Regions from separate parts of the Homo sapiens genome. Here region 1 is linked to region 2. Evidence: fine-mapped expression QTL. A gene starts in region 2. The other region holds a variant in brackets. All regions are shown on one strand. Distances are from middle to middle.

Region 1 (5,378 bases), 160 kb before region 2:
CACACACTAAAAGTGGTGGCCCCAAGAGGCTTGCAGCACACTTCTGGGTCCCTTAAGTTGTATTATATAAGTAATTTAATAAAGACAATGAGCCAATTGACAATTAAAAAAAAAAAGTTGACCTTGTCTAGTGCAAAATAGTCTTGGGTGCTAGACTTAAGCCAAAAGCAGCCCCAAAATTTAAGGAATTGGGCTACCTATTTTGCAGGGAGATGGCCCCAAAAGGTGATACCTCTTCCCCTCAAAAACACCATCATGCTTCTCTGCTCCTCTGTTGCCTGAGAGTGTCCCAAAGTCTCCAGGAAGACACTTAGGACTCTGTGAGTGTGAAATTAACTAGGGATGTGGGCAAATATTTAGAGATTCATTGTGGCATTATTTAAAATAATGCTCCATCATAGGGGATCAGTTAATTAAATTGTGATGCACAGATACAATGAATAATATAGAGTTATTTAAGATAATATTGCCAAAATATGTCTGCCAGTAAGGAAAGTTTATCATGGAATATTATTATAACACAGTATGTAATGATCCCTTTTAAATTATATATAAATATATATAGTATATGCATAGAAAAGACTCTAGAAGCATCTATATTGACATGTTGTATTAGTTGAATCTGAACAGGTTTAAGGGTGTTTTTTAAGGGCTCATTTTGCCTATATGTTCTAATAGAAGACTGTTTTAGAAAATTTAAGGTGAATTGAACATATTTACTCAGAGTTAGACATGAATAATTTGCTTCCCCCCTGCCAAAAGGATGGCTAGGTTCAGACAAAAAATTATCGAATATTAGGATTCACATGCTCAGATGCCACATAAATCAGCAGTCACTGTTGCTCCTAACCCTTTATTATTATTTTATCACCTTCAGAGCACTCATCACCAACCACTTCATATGTTTTGGTTACTTGATTGCACTCTGAAGCCCCACTAGGAAACTATAAGTTCCTGAGAGTAGGGACTTTGATCTGTTCACTTTCTTGCAAAGAATATATGCTTAGTACATATTTGTTGAATCACACATTTGTTAAAATAATAAACATGACGCAGCTCTTCCATAAAAGACAAATCTTCCTCTTCCACTCTTGCCCCTCCACTTCCCCTTCACTTTCTCTTCACCCCCATCATCATCTTCCATTCATATTGTTTAGCACCCTAAGCACCATGGAGTATGGCAGGTGACCTTCGACGTCGGGGTTTGTAATACACATCTCTTGTGCTGTGCAATGATTTCCTGTATATAACGTTTTCTCCTGTTTTCCTCTTTTTAGTCTTCAAGGTTGTGGCAGCTGCTTGGCTACTGAAGGAGAGCAGAGTGCTGAGCTTTTGGGGTGGGGCGCAGGGTAGGTGGTCAGGTTCCAGGAGTAAAGAAAGGCTCAGCTGCTACTTATCATAAGCCTTGCAGGTGGGGATTGTGAGCCCGGAGCCTCAGATGGGAAAATGAGGTGTGGTAAAGCTTGGTGACTCCCACTAAACCCCTAGAATGTTGATAGGCCTCTCTTTGGGGCCCTGAGGCACCCCCTACCATTCCACCCATGCTTGTCTGATTCCCACTGGGCCATCAACTCCTGAAGGCACAGTCTAGGTTTGGTCACTTTTTTAGTCCCAGAGCCTAGCACAGCGCCTGACACATAGCAGCCACTCAGTGAACATTTGTGAACTCAACTGCCTAAAGTAGCATAGCCAAAATGCTAAGTGGTAAAATGTTAACGAAAGCCCATGCCTTCTGATTATCTTTGCTTGAGATGAAATCCTGGAATGATCCACTTTTAATGTAATGAATGCAGCCACCTCCCTACCTCCGGCCTCTTTATTTTCTTGTTTCCCTGTTCTCAGTCTACTTTCTGTTACCACCCTGCCTTCCCACCAGCCACTCTTCTAGCCAGTCCCTTCGTGAACTTTTACCATTTTGAAAATGGCCTTTGTTATAACGGATGGTTCTGGACAACATCAAAAGACATTTGCAAACTGAGTCTCTTTCAGGACCAGGAGAGTGTGGGGAATCCAGGGATTTCCCAATGTTGTGGTGAAATGTTCCAAAAAGCTGCAGCATCTTTGGGCCTGTTCATCCACGTTTGAAGAAGAATGCAGGAGAGTGGGGATGGGGAGCAAGCTGAAATTTTAAGGGGCCACAGAAACCCAGCGAGTAACCATAAAGCCCTAGAAAAGTAAGCTTTGAATAAAATAATTAGCTAGCAGTTATGTTTTATTATGTGCCAGGCATTGTGTTAAACACTTCACATAGAACTTTCTATTTAATCCTCCTAGCAACCCTAGGGCACAGCGCTTATTATACCCATCTTACAGAAGACAAAACAGAGGTCCAGAGAAGTCAAGCGACTTCCCTAATACCACACAGCTGGTTGGTTTTTGAGCTGTTATTAGAACCCAGGTTTATCTGTCTCAGGGACCAGTTATCCGTGCTTTGGT[T/A]TGCCCCCGGAGGGCGGAGCCAAACAAACGGCAGCCTGGCTGGTAAAGAACTGACATTTCAAGCACACAGGTGAAGTGGCTAGACCCAGACTGGCCCCGAGGCGGCGGGAGGGCCTTACAGCGGACCCCTCTTCCCAGCGCCCCCAGCCCCGCGCCCGCCACCCCGGGGCTGGCGCTGTCCGCGGTGCCGCCGGGCGGCGGATCCGGACTCGGCGCGCGGGGCGCGGGCGGAGGGACTGGGCGCGCAGCTGCCGCCGTTTCTGCTTCGCAGAGCAGATGGCGTCGGCGGGGGGCGGCCATTTGACGTTCGTAGCACTTTCCTTCGCGCATATGTTGCGGGCGGGGACGACCTCTAGCCCGCTGTGGCGGCGGGTTTCCAGCCCTAGACGCGCGGTTCCCCCCGGATCCGGCTCAGAACCCTAGCTCGGGCCCACGTCGGTGGACGAGGGGAGCTGGCACCGTCCCATCGGGTAATGACGTGCGTATTTCCCATCCTCACCATTGGCCTACAAGAATGGCCTTAGTCCCATTTTACAGCTGGAAAACTGAGGTATAAGAAGGAGCTGACCAGCAGTGGGGCTGGGACTCGAACCCAGAGTCGGCTGACTTCTGCCTGAGCACCTGGCGCTACTTGGTGACCAGCGTGTCTCCAGCCTGAGGGTCCCATCAAAAGCAAGTGAACTTTCTCGATCTTGCTTGTCTGTGTCCCAAAAACGTTCTTCCTTCTGTAGGGCCTTTGCATATGATGTTCTTTGAACCATCTCCCCAATCCCCACAGCCCGTTTCCTCCAAGGTCTCCTTTAGATCTTAGATCAGGGTCATCTCCTCAGGAAGCCTCCCTGGAATGCACCATAGCCCCAAAGATGGCGAGGATCATTTGATTAATGTGAGTGATCCTCCCCCCAAACTGTAAGTTCCATGAGGGCAGGGAGTGGGTGTGCTTTTCTGTTCAGCATTCTATTCCCCGTGCATAATAAGCACTCGAGAAATAGTTGTGAATGAATGAGTAGTTAAATGAATGAATGAATGAATGAATGAATGAATGAACAGAGTTTTCTGAAGGAGCACCTGCTTCCTCACTATCCAATGATCAGCTGTTTGGGGGTGGAGGGAAGGCTGTTTGGGAATCCTGGGCCTTCTCAACCGCAACTTTTTATTCATTAAGCCTACGCTATGGCTGTTTCCAGGCTCCTCCACCCCCGCCATTGCCCTGTGACTGGAGGCCAAGCCCTGCCCTCCTGTTGACAGAGTGGAGTCTTCCTTATGCTGATGAATGAAGTGACCGTTAATAAGATGAAACCAGGCCAGAAAAAGCCAAATGAGGAAGCTGGCAGCTTTGTAAGTGGTTTTTCAGGGGGAAAAGTGAGAAAATGGACACTAAAATGGATCCTTTAAGTTGCTTTTCTGACCTGCTTAGCGGGAGAGCTGGAGATTCCAGGCCATTGGAGGGCTTCCCAGATGGAAAGAGTTCAGATGCAACAAATATTTACTGACGCCTACTAGGTGCCAAGGGCTCCTTGGGGCTCGATGACAAACAGCTCGGAGGATGCTTGGCACTCTCAAGCCTCATTTGAGCCTCCCCAAAACTCTGAGAACAGAGGTTCATTGCCTCTGTTCTTCAGAAAAGGGAACTGGCTCAGGGGGTCAAATGGCCTGCTGAAGATCACCCTGCCAAAATTTTATCGTGGAAGAGTTTTCATTGCTTTTTGAAAAATCCGAATGTGATATTTTTGTGATTAAAGAAAAAAGTATCTTAAATTTGTTGATACTTGACTTGCAGCTTGATCATGTGGCTGCTTTTACACCATCTCCCTGACTGGAAAAATTATCTCCTCTTTGAGAGGTCTCAGATTGACAGAGCTCGAGCTCCCTCATTTACTGAATCCAGTAACTCTTTCAGTTCAGTGACAAGACTAATAGCAATAAGTCCTTAATAAGACTAATAGCTATAGCTTATGAGTCCTCATTACTTATTGACTAAGTAGTAACACTAAATTAATGTTGAGTACTTTATATGCATGAGCTCATTTAAACCTCACAACCCCAATGAAACAGGCATAATTTCTGTCCCAATTTTGCAGATGAAGAAACTGAGAGTCCAAGAAGTTAAGTAACTTTGTCAGGATCAAGAGCTAGTGAGTAACAAAGCTAGGATTCAAACCCAGGTAGTTAACTGCTATACATTGCCATATTAATGGTTTTCAGGCTGTTCTCTGAGGGACCTCAGGGTTCTATTTACCCAGAAGTGGAGGAGCTGGAAGCACAGAGACATTTAGCTGGGCAAGCCTGAAAGCCTAGTCCACCCAACCAGGACAGCTCTGCTCTTATCTCCTAAAGTGAATCTGCTACATCTTGTCGGACGAAGAGTACCCAGTGCTAAAAAAAAAAACATTAAACATATTATAAGTTGAGAACAGACAACACTCTTGGTCCCACAGTTGGTTGCATGGCTGTGCTGCTAGCAGGGTAGTAGCACCTGGAGGCTGAGCCTTGTCTCTTCTATGCATCACCCCACAGTGCCCAGCCCTGTGTCTCAGTAAATGCCACCCCCATTGGATGAAACATATCAGAGTGTATTGCAGTGGCTGTTCCACTGTACTTTACTCTTCACATCTTCCGGAACTTCCAAGGGTACCTGCAGCCATGCAGAGAAGACCCTCCTGGATCCACCTCCAGCTGGTGGACATGGAGAGGAAGGACTCTGTGCAGGTCAAAAGAGAGACTTAGTGGGCTGTGCCTGGTGGCTCAACACCTGGGAGGCATAATCCCAGCACTTTGGGAGGCCAAGGCAGGCAGGTCACTTGACATCAGGAGTTCAAGAGCATCCTGGCCAACATGGTGAAACCCCATCTCTACTAAAACTCCAAAAATTAGCTGGGTGTGGTGGCAGGTACCTGTAATCCTAGCTACTCAGGAGACTGAGGCAGGAGAATCGCTAGAAC
Region 2 (5,378 bases):
GAACCCCAAAGCTTCAAGTAACCTCATATGGAGTCGGAGATGTGTACTGATGTTGCCTCCAGTCTCATTTTGTTTGTAAGCCTACAGATAGATTTGAGGGAGGCTTTGAACAACATCTTTATATTCTCTGTGCTTGAGTTCCTCTAAATTGAATGGCATTTGCCATTCACTTTCATCGTGGAATTGAGGGGAAGTAGCTACAATGGGATTTGTAAAAAAGATTTTTGAGCAGATTGTAAGGAGAGAACAGTGAGTCATAAAGTAGCCATTCTTTACTCTTTTAAGCAGTAATTTATATTTATTGAAATTCATAGTGCACACATAAGCTATGGGAAGACAGCAAGGGAAGCAGAGCATAGGTGAGTGTTCTAATAGAAACACAGAATAAGAAAACAGAATAATATTAGCTGAAAAATTCAAGTTCCTTGCATCAAAAAATTTAGGATCACAAGCAATATTATAGGCAATTCTGAAAATATTTTCTTTTTTCTACTCTGATGCATTTTGTTGGCATTTGTTGTATTAAAATCTCAGCAAATGCTTTATTAAAATGAATTTGGTATAAACAAAACAAAATTTTTCAGCCTATTTGTCACAATTGTAGAATGTTGGATTTTTAAAAAAGGACTTAAGGATGCCCAAAATATTTTATTTAAAATGCTCCTTACATGACACTCTGGGGACTGTTGTGGGATGGGGGGAGGGGAGGGATAGCATTAGGAGATATACCTAATGCTAAATGACGAGTTAATGGGTGCATCACACCAACATGGCACAAGTATACACATGTAACAAACCTGCACATTGTGCACATGTACCCTAAAACTTAAAGTATAATAAAATAAAATAAAATAAAATAAAATAAAATAAAATGCTCCTTACACTATAGGTGAATTGGGCAGAGAAATAAACACATTTTAGGTGGTCTTCCTAGAGCATCCAGGCCCTAAAATAACCTCAACTGACATTAACAGGGAGGTATCTTAAAATAAACTATAATTTACTGTCATTTTAACAACAACGACAGAGTTGAAACGAATGTTTGTATGCCATATTTGTGCCTAGAAATATTTTCAGACTATAAAACCATGCGTACATCAATATTTGGGAAATGTTTGTTTCTTTAAAAAAAACGGATATTCAGAGATGCTTTATGCCTCCTGGCAATTTTTGCTTCTTTTTGGATGAAAAGACGCTATACTATTTGTACTACATACAGAAACCGAGGAAACCTTGACGCTATTTGCCTCCTAATTTTAGTTTCTTTGAAGTCTGCATTCTGTTCCAATATATCAGCCTTGTATTAAACACCAAAACAGGAAAAGAAAGAAACCCCTATATCAAATACACAGAAGAGATAAACAAGGTGTTAATTTTTTCAAATATTATTTCTAGAGTTTTGCATACTACCTGCACACGCTCCACAGCAGGGAGGGGCGTTAAGAAGAGGTAAGCCTGGAGCACAGTGAAATGTGACCTTGCCACAACCCCATCAAAGGTCTGTTTGATTGATTTTTCTTCCCTGCAAACGATCGGAAAGTAGCAGTGACAGAACAAGTCCTTAAAATTCGACAATCACTAGGGCATACTTCATTTCATCACACAAATAGGGAGTTGAAAGGTCGCCACTAGTTCTATGGGTTTCCTCAGCAAGACAGACTCTTTAACACCCAAGTTTTGAAAGTATGAACTACAGTATTCCACAGATGATTGTGCCTGGTGTTTAAAAGGCCCCTGCAGAGGTCTAGTCAAAATATTTACATTCCTCTCTGAAACTGTAATGCAAAGGAAAAGGGAAAAATCGTGAGAGGACAAATCAAAAGAAAAACTTTCCTTCCCCGGCAACAAGAAAAGGTGTCAGGCCGCTGGGTCTTCTGCAGACAGCCCTGTTCTCTTGGTGTAGATCAGGTGCCCATCACACACTTTTCCAACGGACGTACATCTATAGCAAGGTGCATTAGCTGCATTCCGTGTCAAAATTAGGGCTGTATCCATTTCTGAACACATGTGGTTAACAGAAAGCCTCATCATCCCGCCGTAAGTGGGTGTGTTTAATTGTCCATGCGTGTTCCCCGAGGCGCTCCATGGACGCTGCAAATAGATGGGTGAGTGATGGGCACATATATTTTCTCCATAAAGTGCAGCCACTGGCTCAAAGTGAGGCAGACTCTGGCAAGGAAGAGAGTTCGAGGCTGGGTGGCGGCGAGGATGGGATGGGGGTGGGGAGGAGGAGCAGGAGGGGGCGATGATTAGCGAAGGAAATGACCCAACTCCCTCCCTTCTGTTTTCACAATCTGCGTCACACTCCTGTACGCTCCCGGCCCGCGGCGGGCGAGCGGGCGGCCGCGAACGCCGGGTCAGGCCGGGCACCAGCCTGGCGGTCGCCTCCCAAGCTCCGGGTCCGCCAGCCGCTCGGCTGCCCGCTGTAGGCCCCCTAAAGAAGCCGAGGTGGGCACTCGGCCTGGCGCCTGGGGGCCGAGCCCACGACCAGCAGAACTTCTCCCAACCCAGCGCCTCTCGACGTGGGACCGGCTGGGCTCACTGGGCTCGGGGCTCCGGTCGGCGAGGAGGCGCCGGGAGCGGGGAGTGGAGACTCTTTGGTCTCCCGGGCTGTGGCGGTGCAACTCCCGCCGCCTGCGTTCTAGACAGAAAAGCCCCTTCTGACCATGCATTAGTAGTACTACTCCATTATTCCTGTTAGAACAAGTTAAAAGTAAGGGTTGAGCCCAAAGGCCCCAGGAGGGGGGTCATGTGCGCCCCAGTCACTCAGGCTCCCCTCGCTTCTCCGGTTCGAGTTATGCCATCAAGCTAATATATTGTGACTGCTCTTCTCTCCTGTGACAAAGGCTTGCAGCTGCCTCCAAATCAATAGATGTCAAAGAAATATGAAAACAATCATGACACAAAACTTAAATCCTGGCTGGAGCCTACATAATCAGAAATGTGCTACTGTTCTTCAAGCCACCGATTAATTTATCCCAAACTTTAGTCAAATTTTTATTCCGGTACCTTTTTCCCAGCAGATCCTGCTACGTCTGTCGGGTTTGTAATGTAATTTGTAATTACTGCCCTTCATGTGGTCCGGTGCCTTGAACCATCTTTAATTAAAAGCATAATTAAGGGAAGATCTAAAGAAAGACAATTACCAGATGGTCTTTTTTTTAGAGGCGGTAGTTGCGCAGAGAGGGGCTCGGGGTCTGTCCCCGGGACCCCACGCCTTGGGAGGGGGCGGCGGGCCCGAACGGCGCCTGCGCACTGAGGAGGCCTTGGCCTGGCTTGCACCCCGGGTCCCTCCCTCACCCCACCGGGCCACACCCCGCCACACCCCGCCCTGGCCCTGAGGCTCCACCGAGGCCGCGCCCAGAGGTGAGCGCCAGCGTCCCCGCCGTGCAAAGAGACTCTGGCTTTCTTCGCTTTTCCCCGGGGGGTAGCGGGATGTGGGGGTGAGTCCCCAGCAGGGAGGCTGGGAGAAGATCAAGGCCGAGGCAACTTTCAAATCTGCGAAGGGGCCCCCGATCCGGGCCCATCCCGCCCTGCACGCGAGCCTGAGAGCTCTGAAGCAGAAAGAAGGAAAGGATGCGAGGGCTGGAAGGGAGACGAAGGAATGAGAGAAGAGCGTTTGCCCCGCCAGATGACAGCCTTGGGAGGAGGCCCTGGCCTAGGTCCTCCCTGACTGGGACTGACTAGGGTGGGAGCTGGGGGATCCTAGCCCTGCGGGCCTGGGAACCCCTGGGACAAAAAGACAGCCGGGGAGCGCCGTCGACCGCAGCCCCGTCGGTCAAAGTGGCCCCTTGACAGCTATTCTCTCGGCTTTCGGTTCCTCGGTGTCCATTGGTCCCCGGGATTTTCAGAATAAGTTCGGGGGAGGGGAAGAAACCCACTCTCCACTCCTATCCCATCCCCACGTCCCCGAAATGAATAATGCAGGCAGGAGCCAAGATTTCTGCATTAGCGCCACGTTGCCCCGGCGGCTGGCGCTAGGATCCCGAAGTCGGATAATGGAAATTAAACTGTTGTTGTGTGGCGGGGATGTCATTATGTGACTGTTCATATTCAAAGTCAGGCAGCAATGAATTGTAATCATTTCAATTATCTTCAATACACTTTCTTTAGGACACAAGTTGTCAAGGATAAAAAAAAAAAGTACATTCTTGCGGCTCCGTGGGTCCATTTTCCAGATGGTTTGTTACTCTTGCTGCCTGATTTAGTTTCGGCTTTTATTCCCCAGCCTCAGATTCTCTTGCAGAGACTCCGCCGGAGTGAGCGGCTTCTCTGGCGCTGCGGGCCGGCTACGCTGGTCGGCAATCGGCCTCCGTGGGCCTGGCGTGCGCATTTTGGTTGCTTTCAGGTATAATTAACTTTGAACAACAAATATGCCTGGAGCTCTGGATCTAGTGTCCCCTTGGGGAAGGGGGCCGTCGTATTATACTCTGCGTCCTTCCCAGCCTGGGGCGGGGTGGGGGCTGGCTGCAGCAGCTGCACCCACTCCCCAGGCCAGCGCTGCGCGTCAGAAAAGCATGTGCTGGGCTGTACCCACTCCTCCGACAGAGCCCGGACCCTCTCCTTCCAACCCAGAGAACTCAGGGAAAAGCCGGGATCCCCGGAGCCTGCCGTCCTTTGTTGAAATTACCCTCTGCCCAATGTTCGCTCCCTCCTGTGCCTGAACGTGGGGCTGCGACAAGTTGGATGTGGTGTCCTTGAAGTATCCCTTCGAGCGCCCTCCGCCCCCAGACTGGGCAAAAAGAGTAGGGGTCGCCTTTGAAGCCCAAGTCCGCGGCTCCTATTTGGACTAATCCCGATCTTTACACTAATATCGCCTCTCGGGTTTTCATTATACTCATTTGGGAGGAAATGAGCTTTTGCTGGGCAAATAGCACCCTGCACCCCACTTCTCATAGCTGTGCAGGCCCGGGGCCTGAACAACCCCGCAGGCAATCCGGGAGCTGCCGATATTATATTTGTGAAATGTCCTTTTGTTGAGGCTTTTAACACCTTCTTATAACGAATCATTTGTTCTTTTCTCTTTAATTTTGATAGACAATTAGCCATCAGAGATACACCAGTTGACTGTAACCGAGCATTAAACTCGCCTTTATGTAACGCTAATTTAGCATAGCTGCTTTGTTTAACTTTGCTATATAAGAACCAGGTTTTGTAGCAAAAAAAAAAAGGTGTAATTTTATGTGGGGCTTCATTTCTTTTGGCCCTGTACACAGCTAGCCCTCTCCTCTTTGTGAAGCGTTCTGCTGGGGCCTGACGCCATTTCCCGTGCCTAGCACCTGCAGGCTGGGGGGAGAGAGGGAATTAGCATTGATATAGATTTAGTTGAAATGTAATCTCTTAAATCTGTCCAAGATTCGGGGAGATAATTACACTTT

Alleles and levels. Alleles are on the strand shown, and positions count from the first base shown. SD is a standard deviation of normalised expression in the study named.
With allele A in place of T in region 1, the expression in cerebellar hemisphere of the gene that starts at base 3,013 in region 2 is lower (small effect, 0.21 SD a copy in GTEx).

The links. PIP is the estimated chance that this variant, and not a neighbour inherited with it, causes the effect.
Region 1: its variant is the best candidate, but not a certain one, in a credible set for the expression of PAUPAR in cerebellar hemisphere (GTEx, PIP 0.75).

Annotation. Positions count from the first base shown.
Region 1 is chr11:31,984,798-31,990,175 of GRCh38, reverse strand. No RefSeq gene overlaps it. Among named protein-coding and RNA genes, the nearest start is that of LINC03031, 54 kb to the left of the region's middle. RefSeq lists an enhancer at 2,728-3,228. The variant T/A (reference allele first, on the strand shown) is at 2,437.
Region 2 is chr11:31,824,202-31,829,579 of GRCh38, reverse strand. PAUPAR (PAX6 upstream antisense RNA) reads right to left here and starts at 3,013. Exons shown (of 1, transcript NR_117094.1): 1 at 277-3,013. The region is part of intron 1 of PAX6-AS1 (PAX6 antisense RNA 1); the gene reads right to left. RefSeq lists an enhancer at 2,340-3,764.